Linked DNA regions of Homo sapiens: region 2 is linked to region 1. The links come from fine-mapping of genetic effects on gene expression. A gene starts in region 1. The other region holds a variant in brackets. All regions are shown on one strand. Distances are from middle to middle. Region 1 holds the start of GIMAP7 (GTPase, IMAP family member 7). Region 2 overlaps LOC105375566 (a long non-coding RNA gene).

What was found. PIP is the estimated chance that this variant, and not a neighbour inherited with it, causes the effect.
Region 2: its variant is fine-mapped to the expression of GIMAP7 in monocytes after interferon gamma (Fairfax 2014, PIP 0.95).

What each region holds. Positions count from the first base shown.
Region 1 is chr7:150,503,551-150,519,053 of GRCh38, forward strand. It overlaps GIMAP7 (GTPase, IMAP family member 7), which reads left to right and starts at 11,322. Exons shown (of 2, transcript NM_153236.4): 1 at 11,322-11,395. It also overlaps the pseudogene STRADBP1. RefSeq lists enhancers at 11,044-11,203, 11,214-11,473.
Region 2 is chr7:150,751,693-150,767,195 of GRCh38, forward strand. LOC105375566 (a long non-coding RNA gene) reads right to left here. Exons shown (of 4, transcript XR_928163.2): 3 at 13,160-14,284; 4 at 9,895-9,935. Among named protein-coding and RNA genes, the nearest start is that of GIMAP5, 22 kb to the left of the region's middle. RefSeq lists silencers at 3,902-3,951, 3,992-4,051. The variant T/TA (reference allele first, on the strand shown) is at 7,587.

The sequences.
Region 1 (15,503 bases):
AGGTTTGTAACTACGTTCTGACCAACATCCGAGAAGTACTGTGGGTAGGTGGGCCAGGGCTCATGATTTGAGAGAGTCTGGGAATTTGTACTAATTTGGTAAGGCCTAAAGATACTGGGGCTTAGTAACATTATGTTTTCCCTTCAAAGCCGTAGATATTACTAGTGGCAGAATCAGACGCACACACTTTTCCGCTGACACTGCATTTTGTATAGTAATGGGAGACATCCAGTACTGATATGCTAACATGAGAATCTACTACTGAAGGTCATGGAACAAAACAGGTGTCATGGGGCTGACAGAAAGATACTGTTTACTCTTAAACAACTCAGATAAAGTTAGTAATCTTGTGCTGACAGTGTGCCCCAGGGAGAAGGCCCCTGTATATTCAATTGCATTAAAGCTTGTTTTGTTTTACTTTAAGGGATAAAACCCTCCTCTTTAGTGATAAAACAGTTGTTTTGATATAAATTGGGAATTCTGTAAGAGTAGGCAATTGGCTCCTGCTGGTGAGACTGGGACATGCTTTTAGGCAGAGGTGGCCTTATAACCTGCTCAGCTCTTCCTGTTTCAATTGTCTGCCTGCTCCTCATAGGATTCAAAGGTCTGTTTGCACACCTTAATTTCCTATGTCTGTCTTTAAAGGTAACACTTTTTTTGGTCTTGGTGTATATAAATTGATGACAAAAGTTAAATACTTCTGCAAAAGGATCTGAGTTTGGAAAGGGTAAAGTAAAAGGGAGTGGGTTGAAGGCACCTGCAGAGTCAGAGAGACCTGGCAAATGAAAAGTCCCCGAGGAACAGTCTCAGGTAGTGTCTAAAATGACCTTCGGAGAAAGCCACAGCTGCTTCTCTCATCAGTGAGACTTTCATGTTCCATCTGGGCCAGATGTGTGGGATGAGGAATGAGGAAGGATGTACAGGTGCACTTCACTTTATTGTACCTCATTTCATTGCACTTTGTGGATGATGCGCTTTTTACAAATTGAAGATTTGTGGCAACCCTGCATCAAACAAGTCTGTTGGTGCCATTTTCCCAACAGCAAGTGTTCACTTTTTTGTGTCTGTGTCACTTTTTGACAATTCTCACAGTATTTCAAACGTTTTCACTATTATCTGTCCTGATGATTTGGGATCAGTGATCTATGATGTCCCTATTGTAATTGTTTTGGGGTGCCACAATCTGCGCCTTACAAGATGATGAACTAGTTGATCATTGTGTGTTCTGACTGCTCCACCATGCAGCTGTTCCCTTGTCTCTCACCCTTGCCTCAGGCTTCCCTATTCCCTGACACAACAATATTGAAATCAAGTCAGTTAATAACATTACAGTGGCCTCTAAGTGTTCAAATGCAAGGCAGAGTTGCACATTTCTCACCTTCAACCAAAAGCTAGAAATGATGAAGCTTAGTGGGGCAGGTATGTGAAAAGCTGAGACAGGCCAAAAGCTAGACCTCTTGCACCAAACAATTAGCCAAGTTTGAATGCAAAGGAAAAGTAATTGAAGGAAATTAAAAGTGCTACTCCAGTGAATATATGAATGATAAGAAAGCTAAACAGCCTTACTGCTGATATGAAGAAAGTTTTATTGGTCTGGATAGAAGATTAAGCCAGCCGCAACATTCCCTTAAGCCACAGTCTAATTCAGAGCAAGGACCCCACAATTTTATAAAGTCTGACAGAGGTGAGGAAGCTGCAGGAAATAAGTTTGAAGCTAGCAGATGTTGGTTCATGAGGTTTAAGGAAATGACCTGTCCCCATTACATAAAAGTGGAAGGCGAAGCAGCAAGTGCTGATGGAGAAGCTGCAGCAAGTTATCCAGGGGATCTAATTTAGATCACTGATGAAGGTGGCTACAATAAACAACAGATTTTCAATGGAGACAAAGCAGACTTTTGTAGGAAGATTATACATCCAGGACTTTCATTGCTTGAGTGGAGAAGTCAATGCCTGGCTCCAAGGCTTCAAAGGGCAGGCTGACTCTCTCATTAGGGGCTGATGCAGCTGATGACTTTAAGTTGAAGTCAATGCTCACTTACCATTCCAAAAAACCTTAGAGCTTTTAAGAATTATGTTCAATCTATTCTTCCTGTGCTCTATAAATGGAACAACAAAGCCTGATGACAGCATATCTGTTTATAGCACGGCTTACTGAATTTTTTTTTTTTTTTTCTTTTTTTATTGATCATTCTTGGGTGTTTCTCGCAGAGGGGGATTTGGCAGGGTCATAGGACAATAGTGGAGGGAAGGTCAGCAGATAAACAAGTGAACAAAGGTCTCTGGTTTTCCTAAGCAGAGGACCCTGCGGCCTTCCGCAGTGTTTGTGTCCCTGGGTACTTGAGATTAGGGAGTGGTGATGACTCTTAAGGAGCCTGCTGCCTTCAAGCATCTGTTTAACAAACCACATCTGGCACCGCCCTTAATCCATTTAACCCTGAGTGGACACAGCACATGTTTCAGAGAGCACAGGGTTGGGGGTAAGGTCATAGATCAACAGGATCCCAAGGCAGAAGAATTTTTCTTAGTACAGAACAAAATGAAAAGTCTCCCATGTCTACCTCTTTCTACACAGACACAGCAACCATCCGATTTCTCAATCTTTTCCCCACCTTTCCCCCTTTTCTATTCCACAAAACCGCCATTGTTATCATGGCCTGTTCTCAATGAGCTGTTGGGTACACCCCAGACGGGGTGGTGGCCGGGCAGAAGGGCTCCTCACTTCCCAGTAGGGGTGGCCGGGCAGAGGTGCCCCTCACCTCCCGGACGGGGCGGCTGGCCGGGCGGGGGGCTGACCCCCCCACCTCCCTCCCGGACGGGGCGGCGGGCCGGGCGGGGGGCTGACCCCCCCACCGCTTACTGAATATTTTAAGCCCACTGTTGATACTTCTGTTTAGAAAAAAAGATTCAAAATATTACTGCTCATTGACAAAGCATTTGGTCACCCAAGATCTCTTATGGAGATATACAAGGAGATTTCATGCCTGCTAATACAACATCCCTTCTGCAGCTCATGGATCAAGGATAATTTTGACTTTTGAGCCTTATTATTTAAGAAATATATTTTATAAGGCTATAGTTGCCATAAATAGTGATTCTTCTGATAAACCTGGGCAAAGTAAATTGAAAACTTTCTGGGAAGGATTCACCATTCTAGATACCATTAACAACATTCATGATTCATGAGAGGAGATAAAAATATTAATGTTAACAACAGTTTGGAAGAAGTTGATTCCAACCCTCATAGATGACTTGGAGGGGTTCGAGACTTCATTGGAGGGAATCACTACAGATGTGGTGGAGGTAGCAAGAGAAGTAGAATTAGAAGTGGAGGCCAGGTGTGTTGGTTCATGCCTGTAATCCTAGCACTTTGGGAGGCCAAGGCAGGAGGATCACTTGAAACTAGGAGTTTGAGACCACACTGGGCAACACAGTGAGATCCTGTCTCAACAAAAAAAAAAATAATTAGTAAGACATGGTGGTGTGTGCCTGTAGTCCCAGCTGCTTGGGAGGCTGAGGTGTGAGCATCACTTGAGCCCAGGAGCTCAAGGCTGCAGTGAGCTATGATCACACTACTGTACTCAAGCCTGGGTGACAGAGTGAGACCCTGTCTCTAACAACAACAAAAGAAGAATGTAGGCTGAAGATGTGACTGAATTGCTGCAATCTCATGATAAAACTTGAATGGATGAGGAGCTGCTTCTTATGGATGAGAAAAGAAACTGATTTCTTGAGATGGAAATGACACTATGAGAATGAAAAGGCATAAGAATGATACAATGGACTTTGGGGACTTGGGGAAAGGGTGGGAGGGAGGTGAAGAATAAAAGCCTACACACTGGGCACAGTGTACACTGCTCAGGTGATGGCACCAAAATCTCAGAAATCACCACTACAGAACCTATCCCTGTAACCAAACACTACCCAACCCCCCAAAACCTATTGAAATAAAAAATAAATAAAATCTCCTTCTTCATCTCAAAAAAAAAAAAACTACTTTTGGCGAAGATGCTGTGAACATTATGAAATGACAACAAAGGATTTAGAATATTAAATAAACTTGATAAACAGCAGCAGGGTTTGAGAAGATTGACTTCAATTTTGAAACAAGTTCTACTATGCTTAAAATGCGATCAAACAGCATCACACATGCTACAGAGAAACATTTTGTGAGAGGAAGAGTCATTCTATGTGACAAACCTCATTGTTATCTTAGTTTAGGAAATTGCTACAGCCACCCCAGCCTTCAGCAATCACCATCTTGATCAATCAGCAGCTATCAATACTGAGGCAAGACCCTCCACCAGCAGAAAGATTATGACTCACTGAAGGCTCGGAGGATTGTTAGCATCTTTTAGCAATAAAGTATTTTTAAATTAAAGCGCATATATTGTTTTCTAGACATAATGCTATTGCACATGTAATAGATTACGGTGTAGTATAAACATAACTTTTATATGCCCTGAGAAACCAAAAAATTCATGTGGCTCTTTTTATAGTTACATTTGCTTTATTGCAGTTGCTGGCATTGAACTTGCAATATCTCTGAGGTGTGCCTGTAGTATCTATAAAGGGGTGAGAAGGGTACTCAGCATACAGTAAGTGATCAGCAAGTGTCAGCTAGTAGCAGTGGTGTCAGCAATAGTAATGGTAATGGTAATACTCTTGATGTCAGTCCCAGGATCGTGGTTTGGTCTCCTTAAGCTCACGTATTATACAATTTCACATCATAGGTGTCCAGATACATAAATAGAACTGAAGGCCCTAAAGGGAGAGACAGAGTTGGCGGGCTTGGAAAGCACTTACCTCATGTTACCTATGCACTGCAGACAGCCTCAGCCTCCAATTCCAAGAAAGGACTGTGCCTTATTAGCAGATATGAAAGTTCTCAGATGCTGTTGATTCATGGTTCAGCAGCTCCTCCTCTGCCTGTGTATCTGAAAACACTTCCCTCCTAAGTCTTCAAAAAAGGCAAAATCATAAGCCTTTGCTACAAAACATACCTTCCTTCAGGCAGGGATCAATGTGGGTACAGACATTGGGCCTGACCCAGTTTGTCTTCTATCTGGACCGTCGGATAGATGATGGGTGATGAAGGCACCCAGGGACACCGGCACTAGGGCCATATCTAGAGTGTGATGTCTGAGAGTGGTTTTCACTTAATCAGGTACAATAAGGCCACTACTGAGGAATAGTGATTAACATTCTATGTGAGGCTAATGCCTCCAAAACCCTTCAAAACCCTCCCAAGAAAATTAACATGGTAGCTGTCATCTAGGCTCCTCGTCTCACAGGCAGTAAGTCAGTCCACTACCTGTCACGCTGGGAACCTCTGCAAATTTTGGAGACCTCACAAAAAAGGAAAATTCACCTACATTTATAAGAACTGCATGAAAAATCTATTGGAAAAAGTGTCTTTGTCTTGGTTTTCTACATTTGTGATAGAAAAACAAATAATAGAACTTTTCAAGATTCATTTTGAAAATTTCCAAATAGAAGTTCATTCTTTGGCATTGGTAGTTATTTAATGCTGTTAGGCTCTGGATTTCCTGAGCAAGCTTAGGAAGGCCTATCTGGCTAATTAAAACTCTTGCTGTATATATGTAAATAACCAAGCTGTACATAATAATGGCATTGAGGGATCAAGAATAATTGTTGGAGATTATGTATGATCACAAGGTAGAAAATGACATTAAAATGATCCAACATGTGGAAATAAGCAAAAGGCATTATTGGGTATTCTTTCTGTGTGATGCGAGGCTTGACTACTGTCTAAGATACTCAACTCTGTTGAGAGGTAACTTGCAATTTTGCTTATAGACAAGTAAATAATTTTTTTGTCTGGCAGAACGTATACCCCAAAATTACATTTTATGGCTGATATGGTTTAGGTCTGTGTCCCCGCCCAAATCTCATGCCAGATTGTAATCCCCAATATTGGAGGTGGGGCCTGGTAGGAGGTGATTGGGTCATGGGGGTGGTCCTTCAGGAACAGTTTGGCACCATCCCTTGATGCTGTTCTTGCGATAGTGGGTAAGTTCTCATGAGATCTGGTTGTTTAAAAGTGTGTAGCACTGCCGCCTTCCACTCTTGCTCCTGCTCCAGCCTTGTAAGATGTGCATGCTTCCCCTTTTCCTTCCAACATATTGAAAGTTTCCTGAGGTCTCCCAAGAAGCCATCATGCTTCCTGCACAGCCTGTGGAACTGTGAGCCAATTACACCTCATTTCTTTATAAATTACCCAGTTGCAGGAATTTCTTTATAGGAGTGCAAGAACGGGCTAATACAATGACTATCTTAGGAACAGTCATTAAATGGGCACAAGGGAAATCTTATCCCCCTACAAATTACCCAAGATTCTCAAATGTCCTTTGAACTAATTATAATGTCTTACTGGTTTTCTCGTTAATCAATAAGTTAAGTAAAATCTTTTACATGCATGTATTTTAAATTTGCATGAAAGTCATGACCTTGCTTTTTTTTTTTTTTTCCTAATTTTACTTTAACAGGAAACACAGAGAAATACCACAAGCAAAGCCTCAGTAGTGGGACTATGAGACACAGAGAAGATTAAATGACTTGAGGAGGGATCTGCTGGGGTCTGAATGTTTGTGTATCCTCTTCCAAATTCATGTATTGAAACCTAATCCTGAAGTGATGGTATTAAGAGGTAGGGCCTTTGGGAGGTACTTAGGTCATCATGGTGGAGCCCTCGTGAATGGAGTTAGTGCCCTTATAACAGGTTAGAGAGAGGCTCCCCGCCCCTTCCACCATGTGGGGACACAGCAAGAAGGCACCATCTATGAATCAGGAAACACACCATCACCAGATAACAAACCTGTCAATACTTTGATCTTGGATTTCTCAGCCTCCAGAACTGTGAGAAACAAATTTCTGTTGCTTATAAATTACTCATTCTACAGTATTTTGTTATAGCAGTCCACACAGACTAAGACAGGATCATTAAAAGCATTTGCTGAGCACCTGTGCTATTTCAGAAACTGCCTTTATACCTCTGTCTCCTTCAGCTATGTAAAATAGGTATTAACAGGAACTGTGATTGGAATTTTAGGTAAGCAGAGCTGCACTGAAACATTAAGTTGCCTCTCAAGGAGAGGAATAGAGGAAGATTTGGCCCAGAAAGAAAGATTGAAACACTGTAACAATAGCTGAATTCCAGGCTAAGCAATAAGGATGCTAAACCTTATGCAGTAAGAACTTCCCAACTACCATGACATGGACTGTCCGCATGGGCTTCACCAATTCATTGCAACTGGGACTGCAAAGGAAGAGATCTAGGGTGTTTCACTCTCAAAATGCATACACTGTCCTTTCTTATTTAACCACCAATTTTCTATCACAATTTAGAATTGTATCCACTAAAAGAAATGTTCAAGATCTAACCCCTAGGACTTGAGAATGTGACCTTATTTGGGAATAGTCTTTGTGATGTAATCAAATTAAGATGAGGCTGTGGGGCAAGCTCTTCTAATCCAATGACTTTTTTCCTTAGAAAATGAGTGAAATTTGAATAAGCACACAGGGGAGAAAACCGTGTAACTCTGGAGGCAGAGATTGGAAGGATGCATCTACAAGTCAAAGAGTAGCAAGGATTGCCAGAAACCACTAGAAGCCAGAAAGAGGCAAGGAAGGATCCTCCCCTAGAGTCTTCAGAGAGAGTGTGGCCCTGTTGACACCTTGTGGCCTCAAGAACTGTGAGATGATAATTTTTTCTTGTTTTAAGCTACCCAGTTTGTGGTAATTTGTTACAGCAGCCCCGGAAACTAATACAGACTTGATATTGGGAGGAACAAGTGACTGTTGCTTTATATAGCAGAGCAGTCTTTGCAGATGTGATTAAATTAAGGCTTTCACAGTGAGGAGATTATCCTGGATTATCTAGGTGGGTTTAAATGTAAACACAAAGATCTTTCTAAGGGGGAAACAAGAAAGTCAAAGAAGGAAGACAATGTGAAGATGGCAGGAGAGATTGGTGCGACGTGGCCACAAGCCAAAGAACACTAGTAGCATAGAGATGCTGGAAGAGGCCAGGAACAGATTCTCTCGTGGAGCCTCTAGAAGGTACCCTGCTAATTAGCCTGATTTTATCCCCATAACACTCATTTTGGACTTCTGACTTCCAGAACTGTAAGAGGAAAATTTTATGTTGTTTTAGGCCACTACATTTTTGGTAATTTGTCATGATAGCAATAGGAAGCTGATACTCCAAGGTTACATAATCTGTGTAAGAGCTAGGACAGTACTATACCTTTCATCTCCTGTTATTATTTGTGCACTATCTTAATAAGTTAAGCTTTGCATTGATTTAGCATCATGGCGGCAGAAGAAAAGCCCCGAGTTTTGTGCACACACACACATACACATACACACAAAATCAAAAACATAATGTTCTTTTTTTATTTTTATTTTTAAACACAGTATTCTTTTTTAATACATTTCAAGCGAATCACTTAATGTGAGTGAGGCTGAGTTAGATGTTACCATAAGTATTAACAGAAGAAAAAGGGAAAGTAAAGACATTTTCCCTCTACCATAAAAGGGTCTGATGCAAGATAAACTAGCCTGTTGGTTTAACAATAGCTCATTAAAAAGGCCAGACAATCTGGGAGAAGAAGATGTACTTAGAAGCACTATCCTTTGAAGGACCATTCCCAAGAGGACAGCAAAATATTGAAAAAATTAACTGGCTCAAAAATTATATTGAGAGATCAAGACAGTTAGCCACAGCTTAGAAAAATTTCCTGAATAAATAACACTAACTAGCTAGGTTAGTAGTTCTGATGTTTCCTTGGAGTTGTCATAGCACTCTGTGTGAACCAAAGGGACTACAAACTGATGCCCCTTTGAACAGAGTGATTTGAATAGATTCTCCAGTGCACCAACTGTATTTTCAAGTATAATTCTGGTATTTGTACCTAGCAATACAGAAGAAAAAGCAGCAAGGAGAAAGTGTCAAGTATATAGGACATAAGATGATTTGCCAGCCCTAGCTAGAATTCCCAATATGAATCTTTTTCATCAGGAAAACCACATTCTGGCTCAGTCCAAGGTAACACCGGAGGCAGTGATATTGATGGCTTGTTATAAGCAGGAGGCAACAGTGAAAGTACCGAATCCTGGCTTTCTTCTTTCATCTGTTTGAAGAAAACATGGGACAATAAACTGCTTGCTGATGGCCTTTTCTCCGGATCTTGTTGCAAACACAGCTGTACCCAGCTAAAGAAGGCAGGAGAGAAGGTTTTTGAGGATGGTGTGTGTAATCGGTCACTATTTACTGTGTGAGTTCCACTGGAGACAAGCACACTTGCTCCAATCCCAGAGTCTACACCTGACCGGGAATTTTTCATTTTGGATTCTGATTGAGGGAAAATACTGATATCCAATGGGCTATAAGGGGGACCTTTCAGTTTCTGTTAACAGCATCTGAGTTCTATGCACGTCCTGGAAAGGCACCTGCCCACTGGCTAATTCACATGTTGTAATCCCAACACTGTAAATATCTGACTTCACATTATACCCATGTAAATCCTGTCTCAGTAGTTCTGGACTCAGCCATGGCTGCACTAATGTGCTGAACTGTGGGAAATCATACACAGCCCTATGCCTCTGTCCATGCTTAACCAAACTATGCAGATGGGACAGGCCAGAGAGGGTCACTAGGCCATCACCAGAAATGAGGATATGGCTGGCTTTAATTCTCCTGTGAATACAGCCATATTGGTAGAGATAGTTCAATCCTCTCACTGCTCCAAAGAGAATGTTTCTTATTAAAGTTTTACTCATTCCTTCAGGAAAATAGGTCCTCAAGAGTTGTCTTGCTGAACCATAGGCCATAAATGGAGAAATAACCCAAAGCCAGCTGCCAACAGTGAAAACTGTCCAATAAGTTGTAATATTGGGATGCCGGAAAAAGTGGGATAGAATCATGGCTTTCTGTAAAACTTTCAGGCGTTCTTTATTGCCGTTTTCCAGATTTGTAATTTTTGTAGTTACCAGCGTTCCCGTAGGAGTATGCCGTGCTAGATGGACAGAAGTCAACTTGTCAAATCCTCTTCCTATTTCTACTTGGAGCTCGTAGTGAGAAACGTTGGCGGAACATACTACTTCACTGGCTCTAGTGGATGGAGGCGACCAGGAAAGGGTTGGCTCTTCGACCAAGTATTGATGGATACTGGTTTCAGACTTGTTTTTCATGTTTGAGTGATTCAACTTGTGTTCTTGAACTAAAGCTCACAGAAAGTGACAAAAATCCAAATATTCCAAAGAAGGCTTTTGTTTTATCTTCCTTTGAAGATGCAGATATATCCTACTTAGCGGCGACGACGGCCAGCGACTCCCTACAGGCTGCCAGTGGTGCGGACCTGGGCGGGTGCCGGAGCCCGGATCACAGAGGGGCAAGGCGAGCGCTCTAGGCCCACTCCTGGCGTGGGGCGCTGGAGGGTGGCAAGGCCGCGACAGGGGCTGTGGGCTTGGAACTCTAAACATAGTATTCTTACGTAGCCAACTGGAATATCTGGTCAACCGTGAGAGCTTTGGGAACCTGCCTCTCACCTCAAGAAACCTCCAGAGCAGATTGGAACCATCCACTGGGTAAATTCTGGAAAATCTGTCTCTGCCTGAGACTGGGGTAGGAAGATGTGGGGTAGAGAGGAAGGTGGGGAAGGGATGTAGGATCTATTCCTTGGGTGCATCTTTACTTGTTAGGTCATGCATATTTTCAAACTTGGAAGAATTATACGAAAAGCAACTAGAGAAACTATGTGTTCATGGGCAGATTATTTTTCCAGGCGTCACCTTCCTTTTTTTCCCTTGGTTCCTAATGATTTAGACTCTGCCTTTGAGCCTCAGTGCTGTTAACTTTTGAATGAGTAACTTGAGGCCTTCCTGAAAGACTATAATAAAAAACCCATATTATACAATCACTAAGAACCCCCAGCTCTACGCTTGGAAATGGCAAGGTATATGCCTGTCTCTCTTCTTCCCCAAATCACCCCTCAGCCTCCCACTCCACCCTGGGAAGACAATCAGGTCCTGTGCCTTGTTTTCTAGGCAATATTTGGGTCATTTAATAAGGCTCTTTTGCATCCATCACTATAACCTGAAGCGAAAAATGTAGCTTTGGAAATGGTGTTTATAGCAGGCCCATGGGCAAAACGTTTCAACCGGGCAAAACTGAAGCAATCACCAGATTATGGAGCCGTATTTCTGTTTCTTTAAAGACAAACATTTTTGTGTGTGTGGCTCCACCCAGCCTGAGCTTCCTGACTGAGAGGTTTTGGTGGCGGTACAGACACTTTTAACTCACAGTAAAAGCAAAAGCAACAGCTCAAGCAGCCTCCTTGGAGAAAACCTGAAAATTCAACTTGTTCAAGAGAAGGTGAGCCTGGCTGAGAAGAGGGTCTGGTGCTATTGGGCTGCGAAGGGCAGTGGGGACAGGGTGTGTGGCTGGAGTGGACTCTGCCCTTAGGAGGGACAAGGCACTGTGCTAAGCAGCACTGCATAGAAGGTGCTGTGGGAGGGGTGAGTAGAAGGGGAGTGAGGAGATTTGTTTGCATGGAGCCCATGCATCTCATATGTAACAGGACACACATGGCTGCATAGTGCACCCTCCACTCACTGGCTGTTGTGATAGACACAGAGTGTTGCCTGATAACCTTCATAAGAAATTAAGGGCTCCTAAGACAGATTTGTAAAGGTGACAGGCAATTTAGAGTCCACCTGTCTAAGTCCCTCTTCTTACAGAAAAAGAATCAGAATCCCAATCCCAGAGATTTTGATGATTCTCCAAGGGGTACCCAGATCACTCATGGCGGAGGAACACTAGAATTCAGTCTGCTGACTTTTTCCAGCATTAAGCAGAGACAAGCTGTGTCCCTAACAGTGTAACATGTGGGGCTGCTGCGCCATTCAGTACAAAAAGAGTTGCCATAAAAGACCTTTATAGAAATCACTCTATGAAAGCCTAAGGACAACCCTGCAAGATTGGTTTTATTTTCCTTTTTTATAGCAGAGGGAACTGGATCTCAAGGAGCTACGAAATTTTCTAGAACCGGTGGGTCTGGCCACAGTTTAGAACTGTTCACCTCTGTTGTAAATGCTTTTGTCATTTCTCAGCCTTTCTCTTAGCTGGAGGTCCTCTGGATCTTCCAGGAACCACTTGAGAAAGTTTTAAAACTTGAGAAAGTTTTAAAGTGATATTTCTGACCATCTCTCTCACGTTTGGCTTCTCAATATGAGAGAGATGGAAAAGTCCACGAGAAATGCGGAGCCCTCCTCACGGTTCCCTTATAACAGGCTGGCTCCCAGCTCACCTTTTTGCAGAAAGCGTGGATCATCTCCTTTGCCCTCCACTGGTCTATCTCTGTGCCATGTCAATGAAAATTTAGAATCATGGCCTGAGAGTAGCCAAGAACAGGCAGTAGAGTGCACGGTTAAGAGTGAGCATGGTAGATTCAGACAGACTTTGAATCGAATGTCTTCTCTGCCCAATACCTCTTAGCACAGTGACCAGGGGCATGTTTCCCAGAATTTTTGAGCCACACCAGCTTCCTCATTTAAAAAATTAGAATAATAAAATTAGTTTCACTGTAGAGTATTTTTGAAGAATAAACGAGATATACAAAACATGTTTTATCAGGGTGTTCTGATATGCAGTCTCTGCTCGATAGTGGTTACACTATACATGGGTTAATTTTTTTATTTGTGAAAAATTTATACTTATTCAAAGGTAAAAACAATATAAGGAACTTCCATGTACCTATATTAAAATCTCACAGTTATCAATTTATGCCAGTCTTGTTCAAATATCTGCTCCTATTCTCAACTCTATCACAGATTATTTTGAAGCAAATGTCAGACATTACATCATTTTATCAGTAAATATTTGAGTATGTGTCTCTGAAAGATAAAGACCATTTAAAAACATTTCCACAATTTCATAAACAGCCTTCAAAAGGCAACTATAAATTTTAATACTACCAGTTGTATTCAGATTTCCCTGAAGATCTCATAATTTTTAAAATTGTTTGAGGTAGGATCTAAGTAAAATTCATACATTACAATTGTTTGACATCTCTTATGTTTCACTTAATGTGTAGGTTTTCACCTTCCTTGTTTCTTTGTGTTAAATTTCTTTGTTTAAGGAAGGGAAGGTCTTTTGTCCAACAGAACTGGGCAGTATTCATACTGCTGATTGCATCCTAACAATGTCATTTAACATTCGCTTCTAGCTCCAGTGTTTTGTGTGAATTTATATGAATGGGGAGGTTGGATCAGATTAAAGTTTGACTTTGTTTTTTTAGTGGGAATACTTCATAGATGCTATCCTAAACTTCTATTAGAAGGCACATATGTTTGAATGCCTCTCTTTTTGTGATGTTAGCAGATGTTAATGATTGTCTAGAATGAATTTGTTTCATTAAAAGTTACCAAAAGATGATATTCTATCATTCTTTATTTATTTATTAGATGGAATAGTCATACACAAAGGAACTTTCATTCAGTGATTCTTTCATTTTTGTGAGATATAGTTAAAAGATGAGATGTATGAAAGACAAAATAAATGCTTCTTTCCCTTTAGTTGTCAATGTTCAGAATGATGAGTCACTTTCTTAGCATACTCCAAAGGGAGCAATTAACTTCTTTCAGGAAGATGGTGTTGTTATCAACTACTGGATTTCAATATATTTGGTATATTTTAATCCATTGGAATAATCTTTATTAATGATGCTCAAATTATTCCATCTTTGTCCAGTTGGAACCTCTTTAAGGTAGCTTCCAAGCCCTTCTGATAAAACTAAGTAATTTTTTATAGCATCCCTACTTTCTAGTATGAAAGATGTTGTAGGCTAAACTTGTATGTTTACTGGCCCAGACCTGGAATCAGTACTTTTTCCTAGTAGTCCTAATTTCTTTTGTGGGAAATACCATTTGAAGATCACAATCTGGGCATTAAGTGCACTCACTGCTACTTGGCTGACCATGGTTTATGCCTTTTAGATGGACTTCAAAACAGTACACACACACACACATACACACACACACACAGTGAAATTATTAATACTACATTTTCAAGCCTTTCAGGACAAATCTTTGTGTGGTTCATCCTTGACACAAGATACAGTTAGGTTTATTTGTTCCGTTTCTTTTAACTTTTACTGGTGTTTTAAAATATAATTTTTATTGTATAATTATGTAAACTATTTAAATGTTCTCAAGATCAAATTTGCAAAAACAAAGGATATTCAAAGAAGTCTAATGACCATTTTCTGTTCCTGTCCCTTGTACCTTGTTTCTCTCATCTTCATATAAATAATTCTTTTGTTTAGTTTTCAAATGGTTCTGCCATTGCTTTTTCACATGCACATAAAAATTATTTATATATATAAAACTAATATTCCTTCTTCTTATATAAATGATAGTAAACTATACATTATTTTCTTCACTTGGCTTTTTTTCACTTAGCAGTATATCACAGAGATCTCTTCATACTGGTATATAGATATATTTCTCATTCCTTTTTGCAGTTGGATTGTACTTTTCTGTATGAATATTCCTTAGTTTATTCAACTGGTCCCCACTGATGGGCATCATTCCTTTCTGTATTTTTGTCAGTGCAGCTCTGGGATAAATCCTAAAATCGGGATTGATAATCAAAGAGTAAATGCATGTGTAATTTTTCAAGGTATTGCCACCTTCTCCTCTATAGGTGTTAGGTTGTTTTCCCCTTCACACTAGTCATGCAAGAAATTATCTGTTTTCCCCATACCTTTACCACCAGATTATGCTGGGAAATGGATTTTTGCCATACCTATAGTAGAGAAATAGTGATCTCTGAGAATTTTTTATTTTTTCTATGTTTTTAATTATTTTTCTCTATTGTGAATGAACTTGGATATCTTTTTATGTATTCAAGGATAATTTATATATTTTTTTCTTTGGCCGTGGGTTCATATCTTGCCCGATTTTCTATCAAGTCATTGGTCTTTTGTTTCTTTACTTTTAGCTATTCTTCATACAGTAGGAAAAGTAGCCCTCTTTGAGATAAATCGGAAAAAATGTTTTCCTAGTTTGATATTTGTGTTTTAATTTGCCTATGGTGTTGTATGCCTTACATAATTTTTTGGATTTTTGTGTAATCAAACTTATCAGTCTTTTCCTTATACTATTTTAAATCTTAGTTATTAACATCCTCCCCACTCCCAGGTTACAAAAAATTTACCCGTGTTTCTCTTATTATTTATATGGGATAGTTTTTGCATTCAAATTTCTGATCTATTTGGAATTTGTATGATATGAGGAATTGGAGGCAATTTTATCTTTAAAATTGCATCCAATTATATGGTGGTATAGTTATTTCAGTGTTGCTAATAAAAGTGTCCATCATCTTTCCCATTGGTATGAGGTGTTGCTTCACAGAATGTAAGTTAATGTAATTGAATGGAATATAAATGAACATAAAATGAGCAATGGCCTATTTGTGAATT
Region 2 (15,503 bases), 250 kb after region 1:
ATTTTGGAAACATTTTCATGTAAGTACTAAATGTCAAAACTCACTTTCTATGAGGTAACTATTTAGTAATTTCTTTGTAAGTGGCTCTGAGGATATTTTTAGCACCAGTACTGCCTCCTAGAATCTCTCTGTTCTTTAGCCAGGTCCCAAGGAAGCTAATCTAATCTGGTTGCAAAGTCTGTCCCACAGTACGCACAATTCAAATAAGAGTTATCCACCCACAGCTCTGGTGACACAACTCAAGCCTTGCTTTTACACCCAAGCAAGTGCTGATGTTTTGGATAGAAACCAAAGCACTTTCTGTCATCCTGCAATCCGTGAGAGGGCCCTTCAAACTGAGTGTGATGGTCATTCTTATGTGTCACTTAGCAAGGCCATAGTACCCAATGATCTAACCAAACACTAATCCAGGTGTTGCTGTGAGGGTATTTTGCAGATGTGGTTAATGTGAAGTAACAATTACCTTCCAGAACATAGAGGGAAATCATCCAGGCAGTTGAAAGTCTTAAGACAATAACCGATTTCCCAGAAAAGGAATTCCACCTCAAGACTGCAGTGTCTACTCCTGGCTGAGTGTCCAGCCTGCCCACCTGTACTACAGATTTTGGACATACCAGACCCCGAAATCACATGAGCCAATTTCTAGATATAAATCTCTTAATAGATATATATCTCTTAATAGATATATTCTGTTTCCCTGGAGAAACCTGGCCAATAGTCAAAACTGATTATTGCTACTGATACTCAGAGAAAGAGCAAACCTGAACATAAATCTCATCTTTTTGGCCAGGCGCAGTGGCTCATGCCTGTAATCCCAGCATTTTGGGAGGCCGAGGTGGGTGGATCACCTGAAGACAGGAGATCGAGACCAGCCTGGCCAACATGGTGAAACCCTTTCTCTACTAAAAATACAAAAATTACCCAGGTATGGTGGCGCATGCCTGTAATCCCAGCTACTCAGGAGGCTGAGGTGGGAGAATCGCTTGAACCCAGGAGGCGGAGTTTGCAGTGAGCCGAGATTGCACCACTGCACTCCAGCCTGGGTGACACAGTGAGACTCTGTCTCAAAAAAAAAAAAAAAAAAAAACTCATCTTTCCAAGGATGATTCTTTTCTTTTCAAGAATGATATTGGGGTGGACATTTTTTAAAGATGTGATTGCATGAGGGGGAAGGCAAATGGGAAAACCAACCATTTTTTCACTCCATCTTGCTGCAATGCTGATGGTTTAGAACTCAAGACTCTCTGTTTTCTCATGTGCTGCCCCTGGATTGTCTTGAACGGTGGTCTCCACAGGAGCCGGTAAGGAGGGGCTCCTGAGCATCAGAGGAAAACAGGTGGCACTGGTAGGTGCCTGGAAAGGTGTGTGAGGAGAAGATAAGGCGATGCTGAAAGAGCTGCAGAGGGGTAGGTGGACTTGGAAGCGGATATTCCTACACTGGGGGAGGCCAGGGACCTGGCAAACTTGGCGGTCTTGTAATACCATCTACCCCTTTTAACTACCAGGGAACTAAGATTTCCAGGGTTTCCTAAAGCAGCAGTGACATGAGGCCAAGTCTGCACCCGAGATTGAGGGGGTGAAAGGATATTAAAGGGAGAAGGCAGCTTTTTCAGGTGTTTCAGGGCAAACTGAGTGCCTGTAGGGCCTGAATCTGTGGCTGCCCCTGTGTGCTGAGAGGGATCAGCCCTCCGGGAAAACATGCAGCAAAGCTATTCACGTGCTGTGTTTGGCCAAGAGATTGGTGGCGGGCCATTTCCTCCGAGAAGGAGAACCTGAAATTGCTACTGTCTCGGAATCCAGCCTGAACAGAAAGAGAAGTGAAAAGGGTGCTTCTCAGAAACATCAGGATTGTTCTCATTTGCCTCAATTATTTTATTGAGGAGTTTTTCCTCTCCAGTCACAGTGCTATCCCTCTAGCCCAAACCACCACTACAGAGAACCCCACCCAAGTGCCACACCAGCCCTCTGGACAGCACTATCATCGCTCCCCTCCAAAAAAAAAAAAAAAAAGCCTATTCTGGGCTGGCCATCAACTCACCTCACTCATCTTATATCCATCAATCCTTCCATTAATTCATTTTAAAATGGTATTAAATGTCTCACACATGGAATATGGTTGGACCAGTTTAACCTGTCCAGGCACAGTGGCTAATGCCTGTAATCCCAGCACTTTAGGAGGGAGGCCGAGACTGGAGGATCACCTGAGCCCAGGAGTTCAAGACCAGCCCTGGCCACATGGTAAAACCCCATCTCTACCAAAAAAAAAAAAAAAAATTAGCCTGGCACAGTGGTTCATGCCTATAGTCTCAGCGACTAAGGAGGCTGATGTAGGAGGATCACTTGAACCCAGGAGGCCAAAGTTGCAGTGAGTCATGATTGTGTCACTGCACTCCAGCCTGGGTGACAGAGTGAGACCCTGTCTCAAAAAGAAAGAAAGAAAAAGAAAGGAAGGAAGGAAGGAAGGAGGGAAGGAAAGGAAGGAAGGAAGGAAGGAAGGAAGGAAGGAAGGAAGGAAGGAAGGAAGGAAGGAAGGAAGGGGAGCAGCTCATGCCTCAAACTGGGAGAGCATCATCTCTAAGCTAATGAGAGTAAAGAATGGTTCCCTCCACTATGAGGGACATGGTGGAGAAGGGGAAGGTGGAGACCCCCACTGGAAAAACTGTGAAATGCTCTGAAACTAGTGGTTGACCTTGGACAGATTATCTTACTCTCATTTGCCAAAAGTAGCAATAATATTCTCTCTACTTCCCTCACTGGAGTTTCCAAAAGATAAATGGCATGCTGATTAGAAAAACATAACGTGCAGTTGTGAGGATCTGCCAGTTAGAGGGTTATGAGTCAGGGTAACTGCCTAGTAATAAAGCCCTTGCCATCTATGACTTCATTCTTGTGGACAGTGGAGTTTTAACTACTTCTATATATATATATAAACCACACTAAGCCAAGAATTTACTAACAGGGAAAATTATTGGGGCAAAAGGTGAGGAGTATAGGGGAACTCTCAGTATTTTTCATTCCCATTTTTCTGTAACTCTAAAACTGCTTTGAAAAATATATACATAAACGTAACTGTATATATATACATACAGTTATATATATATTTATATATTATATATTTATATATATTATATATACATATATATATAATATATATATATATATATATATATATATAACTGCAGATCATCTTGAGTCCTATTCCTGAAATCTTTCTCCCCTCTTTAAGATGGAAACTACTTCCATCAAGTGGAGTGGTATAGTCAACAACAAAAGGCAATGGGAATAAAATGAGATTGAAATCAAAAGATGAATTTTCAGCCTGTCCTTCAAAGACTATCCCCTACCTTCTGTGGAAGACCAGGGTGGGGGAAGGATGTTCAGGTGATCTTTCCTTGCCCTGCAATTTGTGGGGAAGCCATATGTGTACCCACATAGAGGGTGCAGCAGCCACTATGTGCATATATGAAAATGCTCTTGCACAAACACAAGAAATGAGCTCATCAGTATCACCATAGGGGTACCATCTGAGCTCATTCTATTCCAGACTTTAGGTTCTTAAAAATATAATATCAGTCATATTTTCAGTTAGCACATATCTGGGACTTTAGGGTATATGATTTTTTCTCCTAATTCAGGAATAAAGAAACTGAGGTTTAGAAAGATCAAGTGTCTTGTCCACGCTGGCACAGACTGTTACTGGTAGAACTGGGGGGTCGGGGTGGGGGAGAGAAGAGAAAATGAAAGAAAACAAAACAAGCCTTGTTATCTGCCAGGTCCTGGAATTTCTTGCAAGGTCTACAGATGGCCTAGGAGCAACCCTCCCTCTCCTAGGCAGTCTCTCTCACTGTCTTATAGGCTCTTTATAAAAACACAAGAGCAATGAGACATGATGAACCTGGCCACAAATTTGGTCTGCTAGAGAGAGAGAGAGAGAGAGAGAGAGGGACCATATCCCTGGGGACAGGAAAATAACAATGTGTGTGGGTTTCCGTACAAAGCCGCCCTCAGAGGGTGACTCAAGGCCCTGAGAGACAGCCAGGGTAAGAAGCTGTTTGTAAAACAGCTCTGCTTCCTTTTTCCCACCACACCTCTGTGATGCTTTTGTGCAAAACAAACTTTTTACCAGAATTAGCAGGAGCACTGAGACCCGGAAAAGCCACTAAACATCTGAATATGGCTGCATCCCAGGGAAGGCCAACAGCTGCCTGTTACTGGCCCAGGCTGGACATATACACATCTCCCAGCCACCATCTGCAGTGCGCCATAAAGAGAGTTTCTTATTTTTGTTGTTTTTTTTTTTGAGAAATGGGGTCTCCCTATGTTGCCCAGGCTAGTCTTGAACTCCTGAGCTCAAGTGATACACCTGCTTCAGCCTCCCAAAGTGCTGGGATTATAGGCATGAGCCTGGCCAAGAGAGTTTCCTATATTGAATTCTAGATGGCAGTGAGGACTGAACCCAAGGGCACTCTCCAGGTTCCACTGCACAAGGAGCAGGCATCTTTCTTGAAACATTTTATGGCTCCCTCTTACTTCTGCCAAATGCCCTGCCCTCAGGTTACCTGTGCTCTGACCTGAGGGGGAGGCAAGGCTTAGGAGATTTCCCCACCCAGGAGGATTTCATTTCCGCAGGGACCAGGAAGACATCTGACCCCATTCATGATGTGATTTAGCCAAAGTGACAAGCCCTTGACAAGTTAACAAGGGGCTCGGGAGAAGGGAAGAGGGTGGCCCCGGTCATGCTGGGAGCCTCTGTGTTGTGGTGGTGGGTGCAGGGGGAGTGGGCAGAGCTCCTCTCTGGGGACTTTCTCAGGTGAATGAGGCAGAGCTTGATCAGTTACTTGCACATTTGCATTTAGATGGATTCAGTTTTTAAAGAAATTATAAGCCAGAGAGTGAGATACAGGTGACTCCTGATTCTTTGATTTAGTTTGGAGAGGAGGGCGGTTCTAACGCAGATAACATATACAGTTCGCACTTTGCAATGAAAGCCAGATTTGACTTCCAAAATATTCTCTCATATTAATATTGTAATGTTCACTTTTCATATAATAACAGTTATAACTTTCCCTCTCTAAAAGTCTGTAGAATTATGGTGGTTTCATTTCAAAATGTGTTTTCCTAACAGTGAGATGTAAATAGAAATCTGGTAATTCCTAACAGGACTAAATTCTTATAAGATTTTTTGGACAAATCTAAAGGGAATCACTGATATGTCTCTCTCCTACCACAGACATGCAGGTAATAAAATAAAATAGTCAAAGAGTTTGAGAATCTTATCTCCTTTAAGTTCACAGTGTGCTAAGTAAAATAGAACTGTCAACTGTGGTCACATATCTTGCAAATACCACCCCCTGCTGTTTGTCTCTTAAGTTTGCTATGGTGAGTTTTTTGCTGTCTGGAAATTTGAACAAATGTTTTCTTTATGGCGCTGTCATTCTTAGAAAGCTCTCCTTTTTTGTCCCATTATTTAAAAATATATTACTTATGTCCACACAAAAATCTGCACACAAAGGTTTATAGCAGCTTTATTCATAATTGTCAAAACTTAGAAACAACCAAGATATCTTTCAATAGGTGGATGGATAAATAAAGTGTAGCACATCTAGACCATGGAATCTTATTCATTCAAAAAGTAACTGGGCTAACAAGTCATGAGAAAGCATAAAGAAAACTTACATGCATATTGCTAAGTGAACTAAGCCAATCTGAAAAGGCTATATACTGTATGATTCCAACTAAATGGTATTCTGTAAAAGGCAAAATGATGGAGACAGTAAACCAATCAGTGGTTGCTGGCGGTTCCAGGTGATGGAGGGAGAGATGGATAGGTGGAATATAGGGAATTGTTAGGGTAGTGAAACTATTCTGTGTGATACTATAATGGTAGATACATGTCACTACACATTCATCAAAGTCCATAGAATATACAACACCAAGGCTGAATCTTAATGTAAACTATGAACTTTAATTAATAATAATTTATCAATATTGGCCCATCAATTACAACAAATGTATCACACTAATGCAAGATGTTACTAATAGGGGGAATTGCTAGGGCAGACGGTGAGGAGTATAGGGGAACTCTCAGTATTTATCATTCCCATTTTTCTGTAAACCTCAAACTGCTTTTTAAAACAAAACCTATTAATTTTAAAAAGGGGGAGATTAAAGAAGATAAGATGAGGAAAGAGTGAGTAAAAGAAGGTGGGATAGGGAGAGAGGAGTTGAGAAGGGATGAGAAGAGGAGAGAGTGGGAAAGAGGGGAAGAGGAAAACAGGGAGGAGAGGGGTAGGAGGGAAGAACAAGGGTCACTTGCACACGGTAAACTCCTTACCCTATAAGAACTTATTATACAACACATTGGAGAGACAGCCAAGATAACTAAGTTGTCATTAGATTAAAATTATATGAATAATATGAAGGTGTGAAGTGAGTCTTATATAACAAAAGCCTTATATTAACCCAAGATGTAGATCATCTTTTATACTGCTACTCTGTACGACTTTTATGGTTCGTAATAAATGCTTTTATTTTTCATGATTCACCTAACAATATTTTCTTTATCTAGCTACTTTTTGTTTTTTGTTTGTTTGTTTGTTGTTTTGTTTTTGAGACGGAGTCTCGCTCTGTCACCAGGCTGGAGTGCAGTGGCACTATCTTGGCTCACTGCAACCTCTGCCTCCCAGGTTCAAGCAATTCTCCTGCCTCAGCCTCCCGAGTAGGTAGGCGCCACCACACCCAGCTAATTTTTGTATTTTTAGTGGAGACGGGGTTTCACCATGTTGGCCAGGATGATCTTGATCTCCTGACCTCGTGATCTGCCCGCCTTGGCCTCCCAAAGTGCTGGGATTACAGACATGATCCACCGCACCCGGCCCTTGTTTTGTTTTAAGCCTGCTTTGGCTTATCTGTATCTCTCAGTTAATTCCCAGGATGGATGGATAGATAGATAGATAGATAGATAGATAGATAGATAGATAGATAGATAGATAGATTCATAGATAGATAGATAGATGATAGAATACAGATATTAATATCTAATAATATAGAGATCTATAGGCTAATAATTGTATATAATATGTATAATATATGTAATAGCAGAGAAGTGGGACTATGATAATTTGAGGCCTTAAACTATCTGTGAATATATACAATGTTATTTAATGATACACTCTAATTAATTAAAAACATATAACTCCTGTACCAAGGACTAAACTTTTTTTAAAGGGTGAACAAATAATAAGTCAATAGAGGAGATGAAATAGAATCATAATTCCAGTAAATGCTCAATTACCTCAAGAGAAGGCAGGAAAAAATAAAGGACAGATGGATTAAATAAAAAATAGCTAAGAAAATGGTAGATTTTAATTCAGTTATATAATAACACGAAATGTGAATGATCAAAATATACCAATTAAAAGACAGAAATTTCCAGATATGATTTAAAAACAAGACCTATGTATATGCTGCCTTAAGAAAAAGTCACTTTAAAAACAAAGACATAAATATGTTACAAATAAAAGAATATTAAAAATGTATACCATCAAACAATATCCAAAAGAAAGCTGGAATAGCTATATTCATGT[T/TA]AAAAAAAAAAGAAGCTTTATCAAGTTGAATGATGAAGAAAAAGGTGAAATTTTAAAAAAATAAAAAATAAAAATAAATAAAAATTTTTTAAAACTTCAGAACAAAGAGTATTATCAAAGGTAAAAAGAAATACTACATAATGATAAAAATGCCAATTTACCAAAGTAACATAACAATCCTAAATGTATATGAACTTAACAAAAGAGCTTCAAAACTCTTAAAGAAAAATTGAAAGAACCAAAAGCTGATATAGATGAATATCTACATTACAGTTGGAGATTTTAACACATCTCTCTCAGTAATGGATAGAACAAGTAGCTAGAAGATCATTAAGTATGTAGATGACTTGACCACTATCAACCAATTTGACCTATTGACACTATTGACCTAATGACACTATTGACCTATTGACACTTGACCTATAGCATACTTCGATCAACAACAGAACACACATTCTTCTCAAATGCACATGGAGCATTCACCAAAATAGACCATATTCTGAGCCATGAAACAAACCTTAACAAATCTAAAACAATAGAAATTACATAAAGTATATTTTTACACCAAAATGGAATTAAATTCAAAATAAATAACAGAAAGAATCTAGAAATTGTCCAAAGATTTGAAAATTAAACACATACTTGAAAATAACCCTTGGGTACAAGAAACCTCAAGGCAAATTTCATTTTATTATACTTTAAGTTCTAGGGTACGTGTGCACAACGTGCAGGTTTGTTATATATGTATACATGTGCCATGTTGGTGTGCTACACCCATTAACTCGTCATTTACATTAGGTATATCTCCTAATGCTATCCCTCTCCCCTCCTCCCACCCCACAACAGGCCCTGGTGTGTGATGTTCCCCTTCCTGTGTCCAACTGTTCTCATTGTTCAATTCCCACCTATGAGTGAGAACATGCAGTGTTTGGTTTTTTGTCTTTGCGATAGTTTGCTGAGAATGATGGTTTCCAGCATCATCCATGTCCCTGCAAAGGACATGAACGCATCCTTTTTTATGGCTGCATAGTATTCCATGGTGTATATGTGCCACATTTTCTTAATCCAGTCTATCATAGATGAACATTCCGGTTGGTTCCAAGTGTTTGCTGTTGTGAATAGTGCCGCGATAAACATACGTGTGCATGTGTCTTTATAGTAGCATGCTTTATAATCCTTTGGGTATATAACCAGTAATGGGATGACTGGGTCAAATGGTATTTCTAGTTCTAGATCCCTGAGGAATCACCACACTGTCTTCCACAATGGTTGAACTAGTTTACAGTCCCACCAACAGTGTAAAAGTGTTCCTATTTCTCCACATCCTCTCCAGCACCTGTTGTTTCCTGACTTTTTAATGATCGCCTTTCTAACTGGTGTGAGATGGTATCTCATTGTGGTTTTGATATGCATTTCTCTGATGACCAGTGATGATGAGCATTTTTTTATGTGTCTGTCAGCTGCATAAATGTCTTCTTTTGAGAAGTGTCTGTTCATATCCTTCACCCACTTTTTGATGGGGTTGTTTGTTTTTTTCTTGTAAATTTGTTTGAGTTCTTTGTAGATTCTGGATATTAGCCCTTTGTCAGATGAGTAGATTGCAAAAATTTTCTCCCATTCTATAGGTTGCCTGTTCACTCTGATGGTAGTTTCTTTTGCTGTGCAGAAGCTCTTTAGTTTAATTAGACCCCATTTGTCAATTTTGGCTTCTGTTGCCATTGCTTTTGGTGTTTTAGACATGAAATCCTTGCCCATGCCTATGTACTGAATGGTATTGCCTAGGTTTTCTTCTAGGGTTTTTATGGTTTTAGGTCTAACATGTAAGTCTTTAATCCATCTTGAATTAATTTTTGTATAAGGTGTAAGGAAGGGATCCAGTTTCAGCTTTCTACATATGGCTAGCCAGTTTTCCCAGCACCATTTATTAAATAGGGAATCCTTTCCCCATTGCTTGTTTTTGTCAGGTTTGTCAAAGATCAGATGGTTGTAGATGTGATATTATTTGTGAGGACTCTGTTCTGTTCCATTGGTCTATATCTCTGCTTTGTACAAGTACCATGCTGTTTTGGTTACTGTAGCCTTGTAGTATAGTTTGAAGTCAGGTAGCGTGGTGCCTCCAGCTTTGTTCTTTTGGCTTAGGATTGACTTGGCAATGCGGCCTCTTTTTCGGTTCCATATGAACTTTAAAGTAGTTTTTTCCAATTCTGTGAAGAAAGTCATTGGTAGCTTGATGGAGATGGCATTGAATCTATAAATTACCTTGGGCAGTATGGCCACTTTCATGATACTGATTCTTCCTATCCATGAGCATTTGTTTGTGCCCTCTTTTATTTCATTGAGTACCAAAGCCTGGCAGAGACACAACAAAAAAAGAGAATTTTAGACCAATATCCCTGATGAACATCGATGCAAAAATCCTCAGTAAAACTGGCAAACTGAATCCAGCAGCACATCAAAGAGCTTATCCACCATGATCCAGTGGGCTTCATCCCTGGAATGCAAGGCTGGTTCAACATACTCAAATCAATAAACATAATCCACCATATAAACAGAACCAAAGACAAAAACCACATGATTGTCTCAATAGATGCAGAAAAGGCCTTTGACAAAATTCAACACCTTCATGCTAAAAACTCTCAATAAATTTGGTATTGATGAGATGTATCTCAAAATAATAAGAGCTATTTATGACAAACCCACAGCCAATATCATACTGAATGGGCAAAAACTGGAAGCATTCCCTTTGAAAACTGGCACAAGATAGGGATGCCCTCTCTCCCTCTCTCACCACTCTTATTCAACATAGTGTTGGAAGTTCTGGCCAGGGCAATCAGGCAGGAGAAAGAAATAAAGGGTATTCAATTAGGAAAAGAGGAAGTCAAATTGTCCCTGTTTGCAGATGACATGATTGTACATTTAGAAAACCCCATCGTCTCAGCCCAAAATCTCTTTAAGCTGATAAGCAACTTCAGCAAAGTCTCAGGATACAAAATCAATGTGCAAAAATCACAAGCATTCTTATACACCAATAACAGACAAACAGTGAGCCAAATCATGAGTGAACTTCCATTCACAATTGCTTCAAAGAGAATAAAATACCTAGGAATCCAACTTACAAGGGATGTGAAGGACCTCTTCAAGGAGAACTTCAAGGCAAATTTTAAAAATATGTTTAAATAAGTTGATATAAAATGCCAGCAAATCAAAATTTATGGAAGAAAGCTAAAGGAGAGCTTAAAGGAAAAATTATAACATTAAATGCTTATACCAGAAAAGAAGAAAAACCTCAAAAAATTAATTGCTGCATTCACCTTAATAAACTAGAGAAAGAAGAGTAACGTAAACCCAAAGCAAGCAGAAAGGGGAGAAAAGATAAGAACAAAGTTATGAAATTAAAAACAGAAAAAAATAGTAGAGAAAAATAATAGAATCTCAAAACTGGATCCTTGAAAAGGTTAACAAAATTAATGGGTACTATCCTCACTACCAAGGTGATGGGATCCATACCCTAAATCTCAGCATCATGCAATATACCCATGTAACGAACCTGCACATGTACCTCCTGTATCTAAAATAAAAGTTAAAAAAATTAATAAACCTCAAAAAATGGTTTATCAAGATAAACTTCTCTCCAAAGAAGATATTCAAATGACCAATAAGCACATGAAAGATATTCAATATCACTAGCTATTAACAAAATGCAAATCAAAACCACAATGAAATATCACTTCACACCCATTAGGTTGGTATTATCAACACACATGCACACACAAAAAAATAAAAAAAAATAGCAAGTGTCAGCAAGGATGTGAGAGAAATTGGAGCTCTTGTGCATTGCTGGTGGGAGTGTAAAATGGTGCAGCTGCTGTGGAAACGATATGATGATTCCTCAAAAAAATTAAACATAATTACCTGTGATCCAGCAATTCCACTTCTGGGTATACACCCAAAAGAAGTGAAAGCAGAGACTTGAACACATATTTGTACACTGTGTCCATAGCTGCGTTATTCACAATAGCCAAAAGGTGGGAGCAACCCAAGTGTCCATTGACACATGAATGAATAAACAAACATGATATATTCATACAATGGAATATTATTCAGCCTTTTAAAATAAGGAAATCCTGACTCATGCCATCACCTTCAATGGCAAAAACTCTGATTACTTTTGCACCAAAAGTACACTTCTTTAAGGAGTCCTGGTTCCTTTCATTGGGGAATGGCAGTATAGCAGTTTCTTATAAATGGAAAATAGTTTTGCAATTTCTTATAAAGTTAAACATGCACTTACCATGTGACCCAACAATCCCACTCCAAGGTATTGACCTAAGTTAACTGAAACCTTATGCTGACAGAAAAACCTGTACCTGATTTTTTTTTTTTTTTTTGAGATGGAGTCTCACAGGCTGGAGTGCAGTGATGCTATTTCAGCTCACTGCAACCTCCGCCTCCTGGGTTCAAGTGATTCTCCTGCCTCAGCCTCCCGAGTAGCTGGGATTACAGGCATGCACCACCACGCCAGGTGAATTTTTGTATGTTTAGTGGAGAAAGGATTTTGCCATGTTTGCCAGGCTGGTCTTGAACCCCTGACATCAGTTGATCCTCTTGCCTCAGCCTCCCAAAGTACTGGGATTATAAGCGTGAGCCACTGTGCCTGGCCCTGAATGTTTATAGCAGCTTTATTCATTACCAAAGCTAGAAATAGTTCAGCTGTCTTTCACAGATGAAAGGGTAAGTAAGTCTGTGTATATCCAGACAATGGGATACCATTCAGCAATAAAAAGTATCAACCCACAACACATGAATGAATCTGAAATTCTTTTTGCTAAATGAGAGAAAATCCAAAATGTTACATACTGAATGATTCTATTTATATGGCATTCTGGAAAAAGCAAAATTATAAAAATAGAAAACAAATCCGTGGTTGCCTGGAGTTGGGGGAGTCCTATGAAATGATGCCCCACTAAAGGGCCTCATTAGGAAACTTTTGGGCAGTCCAATTGTTCTGAGTTAAACTGTCTTGTTGTACACGTGACTCTATGCCTTTCTCAATCCCATAAACCTATACACCACAAAGGGTAAACTTTGCTGTATACAAATTTTTAAAAAATCAACTGAGATCTTGGGGAAATCCAAGATGAAAAGCGGACTGCTAAAATGAATCTAACCGTATTACAAATAAAAAAACATAACCATACGGAAGTTAGGAGGGAAGAAACGAGCTGACCTAAGTGCCTTTGTAAAGCAATGTTTTGACTGGAGAGTGTCAGGCCAAAGACAAGAAGAACAGTACAGAAGCAACAAACTCTCATTGGTAAATTCGTTTTTCACAAACAACCCTAAACCTATGGTATACTTGGGCTCAAAAATAATTAAATATAGTGTAAGCTATGGGATCCACTTTTCTCATTGTCAGAAAGAAGTTACAAATAAGCAGAGATAATGCTAGAATAAATCCTGGTGCTGGACTGGAGTTAGAAATATCAGTATGAACTCATGGTTGATTTATTTTTAGTAGATACAAAAATATAATATGTGTGCATATATGGGTCAGTTATACATACATGAATTACCTAGCTCTGCCCACTGAGAGAGAGGAGACTATGAGCAGTGACACCAGTAGCAATGAGCACAGCCAGCACTCAGATCTTGATTTCGAAATGCCGTTCCCTGATGAAAGGAACCAGGACTCCTTCAAGAAGTGTAGAAGTGGCTGATTCCAGGGCTAGGATAGGGAAAATAAATATAAGATGAGCCTGGAACACCTTATAGTGCCAGAAAGTAAAGAAGTGAAAACAGGATAAAGCATGTGAAAAATGCAGAAGAGGAGGCAAAAATTTGCCCCTCCTCTTTTATGGTTTTGTTGTTGTTGTTGTTGGGGGTTTTTTGTTTTTGTTTTGTTTTCTTGTTTGTTTGTTTGTTGCCTGGGCCTGGAGAATTAAATAGACATAAGACAAATCAACAGGAGAAAAGTATATAAATTATTTAATGCAAGTTTTTTAATGGCAGGAGAGCATTCATAAGGAAATGAAGACACAAAGCAGCAGCTAGAGTCAAACATTTATGCCCTGAATTGTGAAAATGTAACAAGGCAAAGGGGCTTATGCTAGGGTAAATAACTGGGTAAATAAGTAATTAGGAACATAAGGGATGCTTGTATAGATTCCTATCAGCCTCAACTTCCTATCCTTTGTGATGAGAATGTTACTTTCTTCTTGGTTTAGGGAGAACACCTTTCACATGGGAATTTCATCTCTGGCTTTTAAAGAACAGTGAAGGTCAGAGTGATCTTCTTGCATCTCCTGTTTTTATGTGCCTTTAGTTTAAAATAATTCTGATGCCAAAGTGGCATATTTGGGGATGATGTGTTCTGAGTGACATGTTTTGGGGTAGTGTATTCTGAGCCTCTTCATTCCCCATTTGAAACTTTACTTTTAGAAAGTTTCATATGTTAAAAGCCAAGTTAGTAGCTGTGAGCAGATTTGGGTTGGAAGTTGTGAAACAAGAGATCAACGAAGGGAAAGAAAAACAAGGATCGGAACACACAGAAGAACAAATATTCCCCGTATCTTATTGACACAGCCTTTTAGTCCTGAGAACAGTTCAGTTGAACAGTTGCGTCTCATTTTAGGAGGCCGTGTTGCAGTTGGGCTTCCATCCAAGTTGAGACTTCATAATGTAAACAATAAGAGGCATTTCTTTTTTTTTTTTTTTTTTTTTTTTTTTTTTTTTTTTTTTTTTGAGATGGAGTCTCGCTCTGTCGCCCAGGCTGGAGTGCAGTGGCGCGATCTCGGCTCACTGCAAGCTCCGCCTCCCGGGTTCACGCCATTCTCCTGCCTCAGCCTCCCGCGTAGCTGGGACTACAGGCGCCCGCCACCACGCCAGGCTAATTTTTTTGTGTTTTTTAGTAGAGACGGGGTTTCACTGTGTTAGCGAGGATGGTCTCGATCTCCTGACCTCGTGATCCGCCCGCCTCGGCCTCCCAAAGTGCTGGGATTACAGGCGTGAGCCACCGCGCCCAGCCCAATAAGAGGCATTTCTATGGAAACAAAAGAAAAATAAAGGTTAATGTTTAGGGCAAGTTATAAGCCCAGCTTTTGAGTCCAGAGGGCAATCAGTTGGTAAAGGGTACTATAGGTTGGGCTCAAAGCATCTTTAGATAGAGAGTGAAGATAAGCAGTGGTAATTCTGATCAATTTCCTGATTTGCAGTTTGAATGTCTCTGGTGAGGTCATTGGGTGTTCCAGTGGACTTTCTGAGTGGCCTACACAGCAACAGGCACAAAGGTTGCTTATATATTAGTTGTGGTAGTGAGTTCTCTGAAGTTTATATCAAGTCATCCAGTTTCAGCTTGCAAAATTTCAGGAAAAGGGCAGCTTCAGTTTTCAGTGATGTCAAGTCAAGAGAGTAGGAGAAAAACATGAAGCATTAGCCTGAAGATTTGTTGCCGGATATGGGAGGAAATTAGAGTTTAATATCTAATCCATTCTACATATAGATAACAAAACTTCAAAGACAATGAACAGTACTAGAATCCAATAACGGGTACACTATAGTTTTTGTTAATATAATTTTTCTCTCCACAGTCACTCCCACTTTTACCAAACATAATCACAGTAAGACTAATTTTTTTACAAAATAAGTCTAGTCACATTAAACTTGTCTTGATTATTTATATAATGCAGCAAGAATAGTGATTGATCGTATAGGCTCTTTTTAAGTCTGCTTTGCTGGAACTGCTAATAAGGAATCTAAAAGCCTCTCAAGTCTAGGAAGCCAAGCCAAGAGCTTGTCATTAGATTTTGCCTGTAACACCTCTAGATTTGGGTGAGTTCCTCTGTTCTCGAGGTCTCCAAAATATTTTTAAGGCTCCTGGGCCTGCATGAAAGTTACCTTCTTTACTCAACTATAAGGCTA